3 separate regions of the Homo sapiens genome follow, and regions 2 and 3 are each linked to region 1. The links come from fine-mapping of genetic effects on gene expression. A gene starts in region 1. Each other region holds a variant in brackets. All regions are shown on one strand. Distances are from middle to middle. Region 1 holds the start of NDUFB11 (NADH:ubiquinone oxidoreductase subunit B11). Region 2 overlaps CDK16 (cyclin dependent kinase 16). Region 3 has its middle 37 kb from the start of USP11.

Region 1 (4,196 bases):
TGGCGGGGCCACCCACAGTGTGATCAGGGCTTTGCCACCTAAGACAGGTAGACAAATTCAAGCCTGGGGCTGCATCCCAGGGTGGGGGTAGGGGACTCTCAGGGCTGAAAGTCTTGCCTGAGATTCAGCACATCAGACAAGACTTCACAACAATGGGGGCCCCAGGCTCCTTCCACAGGCCCCAAGGGACCATCTCATCCTCCCAACAAGCTGCTGGCTGTCCCCTATAAGGCAGCAAAAGACCATGAAAGGCTCTTGGGGGGGTGTGTGAAGGGGCGAACTTGGCGACGAGACAGCTGCCACCTCCCTGGGCTCCTGGCCAACACAGCCTTGGCCCTCACACAGCAACTGGCTCAGCCCTGAGCCCTGTCTCTTATGTGCAGCCCGGTCCTAAGGTGGTTCCCTCCCCAGGGCTCAAGCCCGGTTTCCAGAGGCAAAAGGGGCCCTTTTGGAGGCTGTTCTGAACCACTGTGCTCTTCTATTGGGATGGAGCAGCAGCCACTTCATCCAACCCTCAGGGCTGTGGTGAGAACTCAGGGAGTCCTGAGAACCCTGTGACCCAGCCAGAGGTCAGGATGAATCCCAGATCTTCAGGCCCCACCCTCTGAATAAGAAGCAGGTAAAGCCAGGCAATAATAGCACCTGCTCAACACTAGGTTGCTGCCACACCTTTGCTCTATGCTCGTGCACACACATACACAGACAAACACACTCCAATTTTCTCTTCCTCCTCAAGCCACAGGGAACCCGAGTTACCTGCTCCCAGGTGGGCAAGAGTTAGAATCACACAGAGGCACTGGCGTCTGAGAGCACAAAAACCTTCAAGAGACTCTGGCAAAGGGGCCAGAGTCACACAGTAACATCCACCACAGCCAAGGGCCAGTCACAGACACGAGCCCCAAATAACTACGGGCCCACATCACAGAAGGAACACACAGTAAGGACCACAATTACACAGTGGGTCCCCTTTCCATGGATGAGCGTCAGTGTCACAGATACAAACTCCCCAAAAGAAGGGGCAATGAGTCACACACACATTCCCTGCATGCCCCTTCCCACCCAATAAGTGGGTTAGGGTCAATCAAAAGACAGTCGTCCCCCAAGCCCCGCCCCATGGATAAGGATCAGAGTCACAGACCGCCCCCCCTCAAAGGGTAAAGACCAGAGTCACATCCCCCCTCCGATCCCCCAGGAATAGAGACCAGAACCACAGAATATTTCCCCATGGACCGATAAACACCAGAGTAACACAGAGCAGCATCCCCTCTCCTATGCACAAACTCAAAGTCGCAGACAACCGCTTCCCCACTGATAAACTTCGATGTAGCCGACACAGTGATCCACAGTAGCCCACTCCCATCCGTCCCTCCCTTCCCCCAACCCGCATGCACCCATCCCATGTCCCAGTCGCGCACGCGCCTTTGCTCACACCAAAAAAAAAAAAAAAAAAAAAAAAAACCAAAAAAAAAAAAACCCTCCCGGGTTGAGACATTGCACCAACCCCTCCGTTCCGCGCATCTCCCCCGACCCGAAGTCCGCCCTCGCGCCTCCTCTACGTCCCCGCCCCGGGCCCCTTACCTCCGCCCCCACGACCAGCGTCGACGCTCACCTTCTCGGCCCGGGCTGTCAAGGAAGGGCTCCCAGACATCACCTCTGCCCGCCGCCACCTCCTCCAACTCTCCCAGCTCAGCCGGAGCCGGAGCGCGCAACAACCAAGTCCGAGACTGGAGGCAGATCGGGGGGAGGGGAGAAGCGCCAAGCGCGCTGCCCTCCCAGGGAAACTCACTGCCGCCTACTCCCAGCCGGCCACAGTCACCAGCTCAAAATGGCGACGACGAGAAGGGAGTCGGCGCTCCGACCACCATCCACCTACTAAGGAAGCGCGCTCTGGCCGGCCCCGGCGATTGGTCACCGCCCGCTAGGGGACAGCCCTGGCCTCCTCTGATTGGCAAGCGCTGGCCACCTCCCCACACCCCTTGCGAACGCTCCCCTAGTGGAGAAAAGGAGTAGCTATTAGCCAATTCGGCAGGGCCCGCTTTTTAGAAGCTTGATTTCCTTTGAAGATGAAAGACTAGCGGAAGCTCTGCCTCTTTCCCCAGTGGGCGAGGGAACTCGGGGCGATTGGCTGGGAACTGTATCCACCCAAATGTCACCGATTTCTTCCTATGCAGGAAATGAGCAGACCCATCAATAAGAAATTTCTCAGCCTGGCCGAAAATGGTTGGCCCCACGAAGCCACGACAACTGGAGGCAAAGAGGGTTGCTCAACGCCCCGCCTCATTGGAAAACCAAATCAGATCTGGGACCTATATAGCGTGGCGGAGGCGGGGCGATGATTGTCGCGCTCGCACCCACTGCAGCTGCGCACAGTCGCATTTCTTTCCCCGCCCCTGAGACCCTGCAGCACCATCTGTCATGGCGGCTGGGCTGTTTGGTTTGAGCGCTCGCCGTCTTTTGGCGGCAGCGGCGACGCGAGGGCTCCCGGCCGCCCGCGTCCGCTGGGAATCTAGCTTCTCCAGGACTGTGGTCGCCCCGTCCGCTGTGGCGGGAAAGCGGCCCCCAGAACCGACCACACCGTGGCAAGAGGACCCAGAACCCGAGGACGAAAACTTGTATGAGAAGGTGAGAGGCGGGGGGGGGGGGGGGGGTAGTGGGGACGGAACCCCGAAGGGGTCAGTCCGGGATCGGCAGATGGGGCGCTGTAGAGGACGTTCTTAGGCAGTAGAGGACTGCGCGGCCGGCGAAAGCCTAGAAGACTTGGGAATTTTGCCTACCTTGTGTTCCTCCTTTGTCTCTCGGTATCTTCGTTCCAGGGCCAGAGGCAGGATTGGTTTTATTTTGCAGACAGAAATCACACCTCAAGTGGACAGCGCTCAAAACACGTTAGAAGCAGTATAGTACAACGATAATACTAAACACCGATATGGCACTTGCTCGTTGCCGTCTGCATTCTTTTTTTTTTTTTTATAGGGACGAGATCTCGCTATGTTGCCCAGGCTGGTCTCGAACTCCTGGCTCAAGCGATCCTCTCGCCTCGGCCTCCCAAGGTGCTGGGATTACAGGCATGAGCCACCGCTCCGGGCCCCGTCTGTGTTCTAAACACTTGACATGCATTAGCTCATCTTATACTCGAAACAAACCCCATTTCGAGGTGGGCTCTATTATTATACTCATCCTACAGATGAGGAAACTGAGGCACAGAGATGTTAAGTGGATTGCCCTAGCTCACATAACTGAATACATGGTGGAGGTGGAACTGGTATTTGAATTTAGGGCTACCAGGTCTGCTGTGCTGTATTAATAGCAGACGCTGTGAAATCAGGCAGCACTGACGGTTACCCACCCGTGTGATCTTGGTAGCATAAACCCTTGGTGCCTCAGTTTCTTTGTCTGTAAGATGGGAACAGTAATAGGACACCTTCTAAAAAATAGGACACCCCACCTGCCTCATGTAATTAAATGAGTAAAAATGGTCAGAACAGCAGCTGGCACTTCGTAAGTATGTACTCAGCACTAGAATGTGTTTATTATTGCCATGTTTCACCTCACTGAGATATTGTGAGGTGTTTCTATGTGAAAAGACTGGCACATAATAAGTACTTCATCAATACTAACCTCTGGTTAAGGGGCTTGGATATATAGGATGCTTGTTCATTCTGTAAATATGTATTGAGGGCCTGCTGTATGCCAGGCTCAGTTCAGGGCCCTGGGGATACAGCAGTGTGGAAATCAGACAAAGCCCATGCTCTCATAGAGCTTACATGATAGTGGGGAAGACAGAAAATAAACAGTAAAATATTAGAAAACAATAATACAAAGTAGTATAATAGATAATATAACATGAGAATGTATGATATACAGAGAATGGGGAAAGTATGCTACTTAGGTAAACATAGACTAGAAAGAGACAGAAGGAAGAGAGGATGTGAAGACAAAGTTAAGCAAGATAAGTGGATAGAGAATGACTTGGGTGTAGGGGGCTATTTCATTAGCTTGAGCTATAAGAAATTGCCAGTATTCAACCATTTGTGACCTATAAAAATAGCAGTTTCCTATGCTTCAACTTTGAAAGACAAGGTAACTAGGGAGTGCCTCCTGAAGGAAGTGGTGATGAATCTAAAACCTTGAATGAGGAGACAGATCCAGCCATGACTAGAGCTGGAAGAAAGGCTTTCCAGGCAGAGAGAGCAGCAAGT
Region 2 (4,174 bases), 85 kb before region 1:
TGGCATTTGAGTTGAGTCAGACACATGGCAGATAGCTGCTCTTCAAGCCCAGTTGAATCTTGTCAGATTCTCTGAATTGATTCTCCCCATTGCCCCTCTGCAGACTCCCCCTCCCCATTTATCTGGGCAGCCAGGTAAATCCAAGAGACCTCCTTTCCCAGCCCTAGACCGTTTTTTTTTTTCCACCTTCCAGAGGCCAACCTCTGCCCACACCAGTGACCCTACCACTTCCCAGAGCAGTTGGGTGAGTTCTAGACCTTTTAAATCCAGCCTGGCAATCCTGTCCCCCTTTGCAAGGCCCTCCTTTTCCCATCCTCCCTTGCTGCCAGAAGTGGCCATGTCATCTGATTCTAGCCAAGAAATGGCACAGGAAGTCTGCTGAGGAGCTTGTGGAAGTTCCAGCCGTTAAAAGAACACAGACAGGTAAGGAAGGTGTTCTGTCTTCCCTGCTTGCTTTTCCATCTCTGGGGACATGGCAGTCATCATGGCACCATGAGGCTGCAAGCTGAAACATCACTAAAGTGCTTAGAAAGACACGGTAGAGGCTGGGCTTGGTGGCTCACACCTGTAATCACAGCACTTTGGGAAGCCGAGGTGGGTGGATCACTTGAGGTCAGGAGTTCGAGACTAACCTGGTCAATATGGTGAAACCCCATCTTTACTAAAAATAAAAAATTAGGTGGGCGTGGTTGTGCACGCCTGTAATCCCAGCTACTCAGGAGGCTGAGGCAGGAAAATCGCTTGAACCCAGGAGGCAAAGGTTGCAGTGAGCCAAGATTGTGCCGCCACATTCCAGCCTGGGCGACAGAGACTCTGTCTCAAAAAACAAACACACACAGTAGAGTGATTAGAAGTTCATGGGCCCCCACCACTGGGCTTTAGTAAACAGCCACTTAATTAGGGTTGCCATTACTTGCAGTATTTGCCTGGCCCTGCTCACCCCCTCTTCTGCTTAGAAAACAATCCTTGGCTTTGCCCAAGATGGTGGGACTGGGGCTGGAACTCACAGGACAAAGAAAATAAGTTTCAATTATCCTCATATCTGAGGGCAAACCCCAGGTTGTGTCATTGATCCCTGGCCTCTTGCAAACTCTCTCACCCATGCCCATGGTTTCTGTTACTTCCTGGACACTAATAATTGAAATTTCCAGGTCCATCTATGGCCCCACTGCTTAATTTGATCCATGTATTAAAGGATTTCTCTACCTACTCAGTGGTCCAAAATCTACCCCCTACCGTCCTGAACATTCCCTCCTCTTCATGGTTTCCTAGTCAGATGGCCATACTGGGCCTTTGCCTCATCTTCCCATCCATGGTTCTATTGGGCCGTCCAGTGTCTTTCAAACATCGTCTCTCCACTTCCCTGCCTCCACCCTCTTATCAGGCTTCCTCATATTCCTGGGCAAATCTAACTCCCCTTTCTGCTTCTCAACCCATCAACACCATTCAGCCTGCCCTACCTGCTTCAACTCCATGTTCTACTGTTACATATGCAATACCTTAGATGCCTTTTTCATAGTCGTGACGTGTCCCTGGCCCACTCCCAGTGTTTTCCTAGACAGTGGTGATGAGGTATGAATTCTCCAAGGTCCCAATAATCACCCCAGCTCGGCCACCCTCCACCCCTACAGGGATTTGCAAGCAGGCTTTTCACTTTAGACTTTTTAATATTTCATACAGCGATTATGGTGCATTCAGGAACCCAACCCCCCAAACCCACTAGGAGGGCTCCCACCCCTGCCCTCCCACCCCATTTCAGGGCCCCAGGGCTTAGGGTGGAGGAAGGGGAGGTAACCACCCATCCAGGGACTGACCCTGGAGACTGTCCCTGCCCTGCCTCACCCTCCCCAGGAGATAGGGGGCAACACCTGGGCACAACCCCTCACACCCCCCTCCCCCAACCCTGCTTGTGCACATATGCACATTATGGCTCCTCGCTGAGCTGGTCAGTTCCTGGCAGGGCCCCTACCCAACAGCACCGAGTGGGATGGGAGCAAGGGGACTGGGCTGGGGAGACCCTGAGAAGGAAGGAGGCCCCAGCTACGGGACTGCAGGAGAGAAAGAGTGGGGCCCCCCACCTTGTCCATTTCCCAGAGTCTCTGGTAGTCCCCAGATCCCCCTGCAACTGGGGATGGCGGGCGGGGGTAGGAAGGCGAGTGGCTGTGGCATGCTTTCCCATAGCCAATCCCAGGGTCTGGTGATGATCAGGGTTCCAAATAGGGGCTGTGTCCCTGTCTCTGAAAGGCTGGGAGCAGGGCTTCATTGCACAAAATACTGTGGGAGGGCCACACGCAGGGGGTGGGGCCCAGCCAGTCTGTATACAGAGATATTGCATTTAAAAAAAACAAAAATCTCATTTAAAATAATTAAAAAAAAAAAAACAATGAATGAAACAAACAAAAAAAGGCCCACACAATATGAGGCAGGTGGGGCAGGCAGGAAAGCAGGCAGAGGATGCCTCAGACTCAAGGCATTGTCACCATCTTGTCTGAGTCGAGATCCCCAGCCTGGGCTAGCTCTGGACCCCTGGCTGGCCGTGGGGTAGTGGTCCTGGGGGCTGGTATGAT[G/T]GGGGGTAGACCTGGCCTCAGTGTGGGAGGCTGGCACGGCCATGCTGTCCACCGGCAACTACCAAGACAGAGACAGACAGACCAAGTGAAGGAGTGATGAGAGCTTTGTTAGCACCCAGCAGACAGGCCAATGGGTGGGTTGACAGGCCAATGGTGGGGTGTTTGGGCAGGCAGCAGGGGACAAGTGGGCAGGTGAACATGGCTCAGGCAGGTAGGCAGAGAGTAAGCAGGGAAGATGTAGTTGGGGGCTGCCCTGTGAGGGGTGTGGCATCCCTCCAGCCGCTGCCTGCTGGGGCCTCGGTCTGTGGCTTAGAACTCGGTGTCCACCACGCGGAAAGCTGGCCTGCCTGTGGGGGAAAGCAGAGCAGATGGCTGTTGGTGGGTAAGCAGGTAGGTGGGTGGGGCAGGGAGGAAGACAAGGGGCTATACCTACCTGAGTCAGGCATCGACGAAGACCGAAGGCTGGCCTCCTTTTGTAGCTGAATCTCCTTTAGTGCAAATATGGAAGTAGCTACAGATGGGGGAGACATAGAAGTGGGGGATGACCCATGAGGTCATCTAGGACCAGCCCCATATGACCCCATGGGAAGAATTAGAAAAAGCTGCCCCTTCTCTGAGAGGCTTGACCTTTATCTGTCAAACAATTCCATACACAAACCAGCTACAACCAGGGAAGATGAAATATAGACTATTACATGACACAAAGAAATCATTATTAACTTTGTCAAGTGAATTATGGTATTGCAATTACCACCTGTTAAGTCTAGGTGATGGGTGGTGTTTGGGGTTTGCTTTATATATTAATCCAGTGGGAAGATAGGGAAAGTGAGCAAATGTTTTTTGTAGGTTTGATAATAATATTGTTGTTTTAAAAAAATCTTTTATAGGTATATGCTGAAATTATTTAAGGATAAATGCTATGATGTCTGGGATTGGATGTGATTCAAAATAATCAGAGAGAATATAGATAAAACCAGATTGACCATGAATTGATGACTCACTGGAGTACTTAGGGACTCATCATATTACTTTGACTAATATATAAATACATATATTTGAAAATATCCATATTAAAAAGTTTTTAAAAGCCAGATATAAAAAGAACATCACATGTGATTCTATTTCTATAAAGTACAAGGACAGAAAAAACTTATCCTTGCTGTTAGAGGTCAAAACAGTGGCCACCCTTTGGGAAGGGGCTGGGAATAACTGAAGGAGATGCAAGGGAGCTGGGGGTGGGGAGCTTTTAACATTCTGTTTCTTGACTTTTGTGCTAGTTACAAGGATGTGTTTCATTTATGAAAATTCATTGTATAGTATACTTATGATTTGTGCATTTTTTAGCACATGTAAGGAAATGTCTACTTTAAAAAAAGTAAAGTGCTATTGCATATATTTTTATGTATGTTTTAAATTTTTCATGAAAGGTAAAAGGAACTGAAAACTAAAAAATGTTTTCATAACAAATACAACCCATCACACACGTGAACAAGATGTCCCCCCACGTAGAGGTGGCACAGCCAGAATCCTACACAACCCGCCAGCTGGCCCCAGCAGTCCTGTTTCCCAGTCCCCACGCTGGCCGGTCCATTCCCCAGCTCCACTCA
Region 3 (4,196 bases), 120 kb before region 1:
CCACCACACCCAGCTAATTTTTGTATTTTTAGTAGAGACGGGGTTTCACCATTTTGCCTAGGCTGGTCTCGAATCCCTGACCTCAGGTGATCCACCGGCTTCAGCCTCCCAAACTGCTGGGATTACAGGCACGAGCCACCGGGCCTGGACTTCTTCCTTTTTTTTTTTTTTTTTTTTTTTTTGAGACAGGTTCTCCCTCGGTTGCCCAGGCTGGAGTGCAGTGGCGCAATCACAGCTCACTGCAGCCTTGACCTCCTGGGTTCAAAGGATCCTCCCACCTCAGCTTCCTGAGTAGCTGTGACTGCAGGCTCGAACCAACAGGCTCAGATGGTTTTTGTATTTTTTGTGGAGACAGGATCTCCCTATGTTGCCCTAGCTGGTCTGGAACTCCTGGGCTCAAGCAATCTGCCCACCTCAACTTCCTAACGTGCTAGAATTACAGACGCGAGCCACCATGCCTGACTAGAAAGGACCTTATTGAGACAACTGATAAAACTTAAATGGGGTTTGAGATTAGATGGTAATAACATATTACATTTTGATGGCTATATTTTGGTTATATGAGAATGTTCTTTTTTTTTTTTTTTTTTGAGACAGAGTCTCCCTCTGTCACCCACCCTGGAGTGCAGTGGTGTGATCTCGGCTCACTGCAACTTCTGCCTCCCAGGTTCAAGTGATTATCCTGCCTCAGCCCCCTGAGTATCTGGGACTGTAGGCGCCCGCCACCACATCTGGCTAATTTTTGTATTTTTAGTAGAGATGGGGTTTCACCATGTTTGGTCAGGCTGGTCTTGAACTCCTAACCTCAGGTGACCCACCGGCCTCCGCCTACCAAAGTGCTGGGATTACAGGCATGAGCCACTGCGCCTGGCCAACGTTCTCATTTGTAGGAAATACACACTACAGCATTCAGGGATGATCAGGCATCAGGTTAACAATTATTTTTTTCAACCAAAGTATGTGACTAAGCACCTTAACTTTAAGTGGTTCAGAGAGAAAAGTTATGTGTACTATACCTGTGACTTTTCTGTAAGTTTGGGATTGTTTTAAAGTAATATATTCTAAAACACTAACCAAGGTTATCTGCACACTTTTTTTTTTTTTTTTTTTTTTTTTGAGAGGTAGTTTCACTCTTTCGCCCAGGCCAGAGTGCAATCTCAGCTCACTGCAACCTCTGCCTCCCGGGTTCAAGCAATTTCCTGCCTCCAGAGTAGCTGGGATAACAGGCCCCTGCAACCACACTCGGCTAATTTTTATATCTTTAGTAGAGATGGGGGTTTCACTATGTTGGTCAGGCTGGTCTCGAACTCCTGGCCTCATGATCCACCCACCTCAGCCTCCCAAAGTGTTGGGATTACAGGCGTGAGCCACTGAGCCCAGCTTACTTAAGGTTTTGCACATGGCTGGGCACGGTGGCTCACTCCTGTAATCCCAGCACTCTGGGAGGCTGAGGTGGGTGGATCATGAGGTCAGGAGATCGAGACCATCCTGGCTAACACGGTGAAACCCCGTCTCTACTAAAAATACAAAAAAAAAAATTAGCCGGGCGTGGTGGTGGGCACCTGTAGTCCCAGTTACTCGGGAGGCTGAGGCAGGAGAATGGCGTGAACC[C/T]GGGAGGTGGAGCTTGCAGTGAGCCCAGATAGTGCCTCTGCACTCCAGCCTGGGCGACAGAGCAAGACTCCATCTCAAAAAAAAAAAAAAGGTTTTGTACGGAGACTAGTACAATAAATGTTCATATGTCCACCATCTAGATTTAATAATTATTAAAATGTCATCAGGCAAAAATTTCCAGACTGAGCACTGGGGTCATGTGAGGTCCAGCAAAGAAAAATAACGTGCCCAAGGCCACACAGTCGGCTAGTTGTGACAGAGCTTGACTTTGAACCCTGGCAGTCTGGCTCCAGGATCTTTTTTTTTTTTTCTTTTTATTGAGATGGAGTCTCGTTCTGTCACCCAGGCTGGAGTGCAGTGGCGCAATCTTGGCTCACTGCAAGCTCCGCCTCCCGGGTTCACGCCATCCTCCTGCCTCAGCCTCCCGAGTAGCTGGGACTACAGGCACCCGCCACTATGCCCGGCTAATTTCTTTTTTTGTATTTTTGGTAGAGACGGAGTTTCACCGTGTTAGCCAGTATGGTCTCGATCTCCTGACCTTGTGATCCGCCCGTCTCGGCCTCCCAAAGTGCTGGGATTACAGGCGTGAGCCACCACGCCCAGCCAGCTCCAGAATCTTAATTACTACGTGAAACTGCCTCTGTACAGATATAAGGAAATGTTTATGTAGTTTAATTTCAGTCATGTGTCTGTACATGACTTACAGTCTTTTCTGTACTTTTTCCTGCAAGGTTGCATTTATTTATTTATTTTTTATTTTTATTTTTATTTTTATTTTTTGAGACTGAGTCTCGCTCTTGTTGCCCAGGCTGGAGTGCAGTGGTGCAATCTCAGCTTACTGCAACCTCTGCCTCCCGGGTTCAAGCAATTCTCCTGCCTCAGTCTCACGAGTAGCTGGGATTACAGGTGCCCACCACAATGCCCAGCTAATTTTTTATATTTTTAGTAGAGACAGGATTTCGCCATGTTGGCCAGGCTGGTGTCTAAGTCCTGACCTCAGGTGATTCGCTGCCTGGGCCTCCCAAAGTGCTGGGATTACAGGCATGAGCCACTGTGCTCGGCCTCCAGCCATTTGAAAGTAAGTTGCAGACAGCAATCTCCTTCAATTCTAAATTCTTCAGCATGCATCTCCTAAAAGTAAGTACATTCTCTTACATTATCATGTTACGTTTACACACCTAAGACAATTAGCAATAATTCCCTAATATCACTTAATATCCAGTCCATGTTTAATTTTCCCCAGTTGTCCCATACATCTTTTATAACTTTTTTAAAAGACAAGATTCAGTCCAGGCTCATTTATTCCATACACATGCACCTCTTTAGTCTCTTAAACTAAAACAGTGTGTTCATTTTAAAGATGCCAATCCCCAGCATTTAAAGACCCCTGTAATCCCAGCATTTTGGGAGGCCAAGGCAGGAGAATCACTTGACATCAGGAATTTGAGATCGGCCTGGACAGCATAGTGAGACCCCCCCCTTAATCTCTACAAAATAAATAAATAAATAAAATAGGCAGTGTTTTGTTTTGTTTTTGAGACAGGGTCTCACTCTGTCACCCAGGCTTGAGCGCAGCAATGCAATCTCAGCTCTCTGTAGCCTTGGCCTCCCAGACTCAGATGATCCTCCCATCTCAGCCTCCTGAGTAGCTGGGACTACAGGGGTACACCACCACACGTGGCTAATTTTTGTTTTTTTTTTTTAAGGGACGGGATCTCACTATGTTGTTCACAATTCACAATGTCATCCAACTCATCTTTTAACTTTTTCTGTGAAGAAGACAAAATGCCACCATCAGGCACGGTGGCTCATGCCTGTAATCCCAGCACTTTGGGAGGCCAAGGCTGGCAGATCACTTGAGACTGGGAGTTCAAGACCAGCCTGGGCAACATAGCAACACCACCTCTTGATTATAACATTATTACTTTTTGAAAAATGCCACCAGTTCATGTATTTAGACAACTTTATCACTATTGCTCAGGGGAAAAGCCTGTCTTGGTCTAGGAGAATTCCACAGAACATTCTTTTATTTGGTAAAGTGGGAAATTCTAGGATCTGGTAGTGCATTAATCTAATTACCAAAATGATACCACTCATACCACGCTTGGATTAGTAACTTTTCAAATAATTTGGAAACAAACAAAAAAACCATTTAACATTAAAATTGAAAATAATTCCAACTTTGTTTCACTTGAAGAAGGCGGGTCCCAATCCTGTTGTGTTGCCGGTGTCCACGTTCCAGCTTTTTGCTAATCAACAAAGCCATCCTTTCTGTCTCACAAACTGTTCCCTGGACGTTTCACAATCTTTGTTGCACGCATTAGGGCTTTGTGGGTGATGATAAAAAGGGGATGTTTTGTTTCGTTTTATCATTAGGACCTTTAAAAGAGTAGCAAGTTATTCTGCTGGACTTCCCAAAATGTAGCTGGGAAGAACAATATAGCCGATCAAAAGCTGAAAATTACTTTCAAGGACTCAGGAAGGGAACGTGTGGTACGTGCTGCACGGTATCTGTTAAAATAGCCACTGTGCTGAAATCCCTTTGTGGGGAAAGGTAGAGATTTTTACAAATTCAAGACAAAATG

Evidence for each region. PIP is the estimated chance that this variant, and not a neighbour inherited with it, causes the effect.
Region 2: its variant is fine-mapped to the expression of NDUFB11 in whole blood (TOPMed, PIP 0.91).
Region 3: its variant is fine-mapped to the expression of NDUFB11 in whole blood (TOPMed, PIP above 0.99).

The regions. Positions count from the first base shown.
Region 1 is chrX:47,142,899-47,147,094 of GRCh38, reverse strand. NDUFB11 (NADH:ubiquinone oxidoreductase subunit B11) reads left to right here and starts at 2,393. Exons shown (of 3, transcript NM_001135998.3): 1 at 2,393-2,622. The coding sequence starts at 2,416. It overlaps RBM10 (RNA binding motif protein 10), which reads right to left and starts at 1,874. Exons shown (of 24, transcript NM_005676.5): 1 at 1,610-1,874. RefSeq lists an enhancer at 1,581-1,850.
Region 2 is chrX:47,227,471-47,231,644 of GRCh38, reverse strand. It overlaps CDK16 (cyclin dependent kinase 16), which reads right to left. Exons shown (of 16, transcript NM_006201.5): 15 at 3,001-3,078; 16 at 1,648-2,914. The coding sequence ends at 2,877. Among named protein-coding and RNA genes, the nearest start is that of USP11, 3.5 kb to the left of the region's middle. RefSeq lists enhancers at 2,255-2,755, 2,756-3,256. The variant G/T (reference allele first, on the strand shown) is at 2,568.
Region 3 is chrX:47,267,672-47,271,867 of GRCh38, reverse strand. No RefSeq gene overlaps it. Among named protein-coding and RNA genes, the nearest start is that of USP11, 37 kb to the right of the region's middle. The variant C/T (reference allele first, on the strand shown) is at 1,612.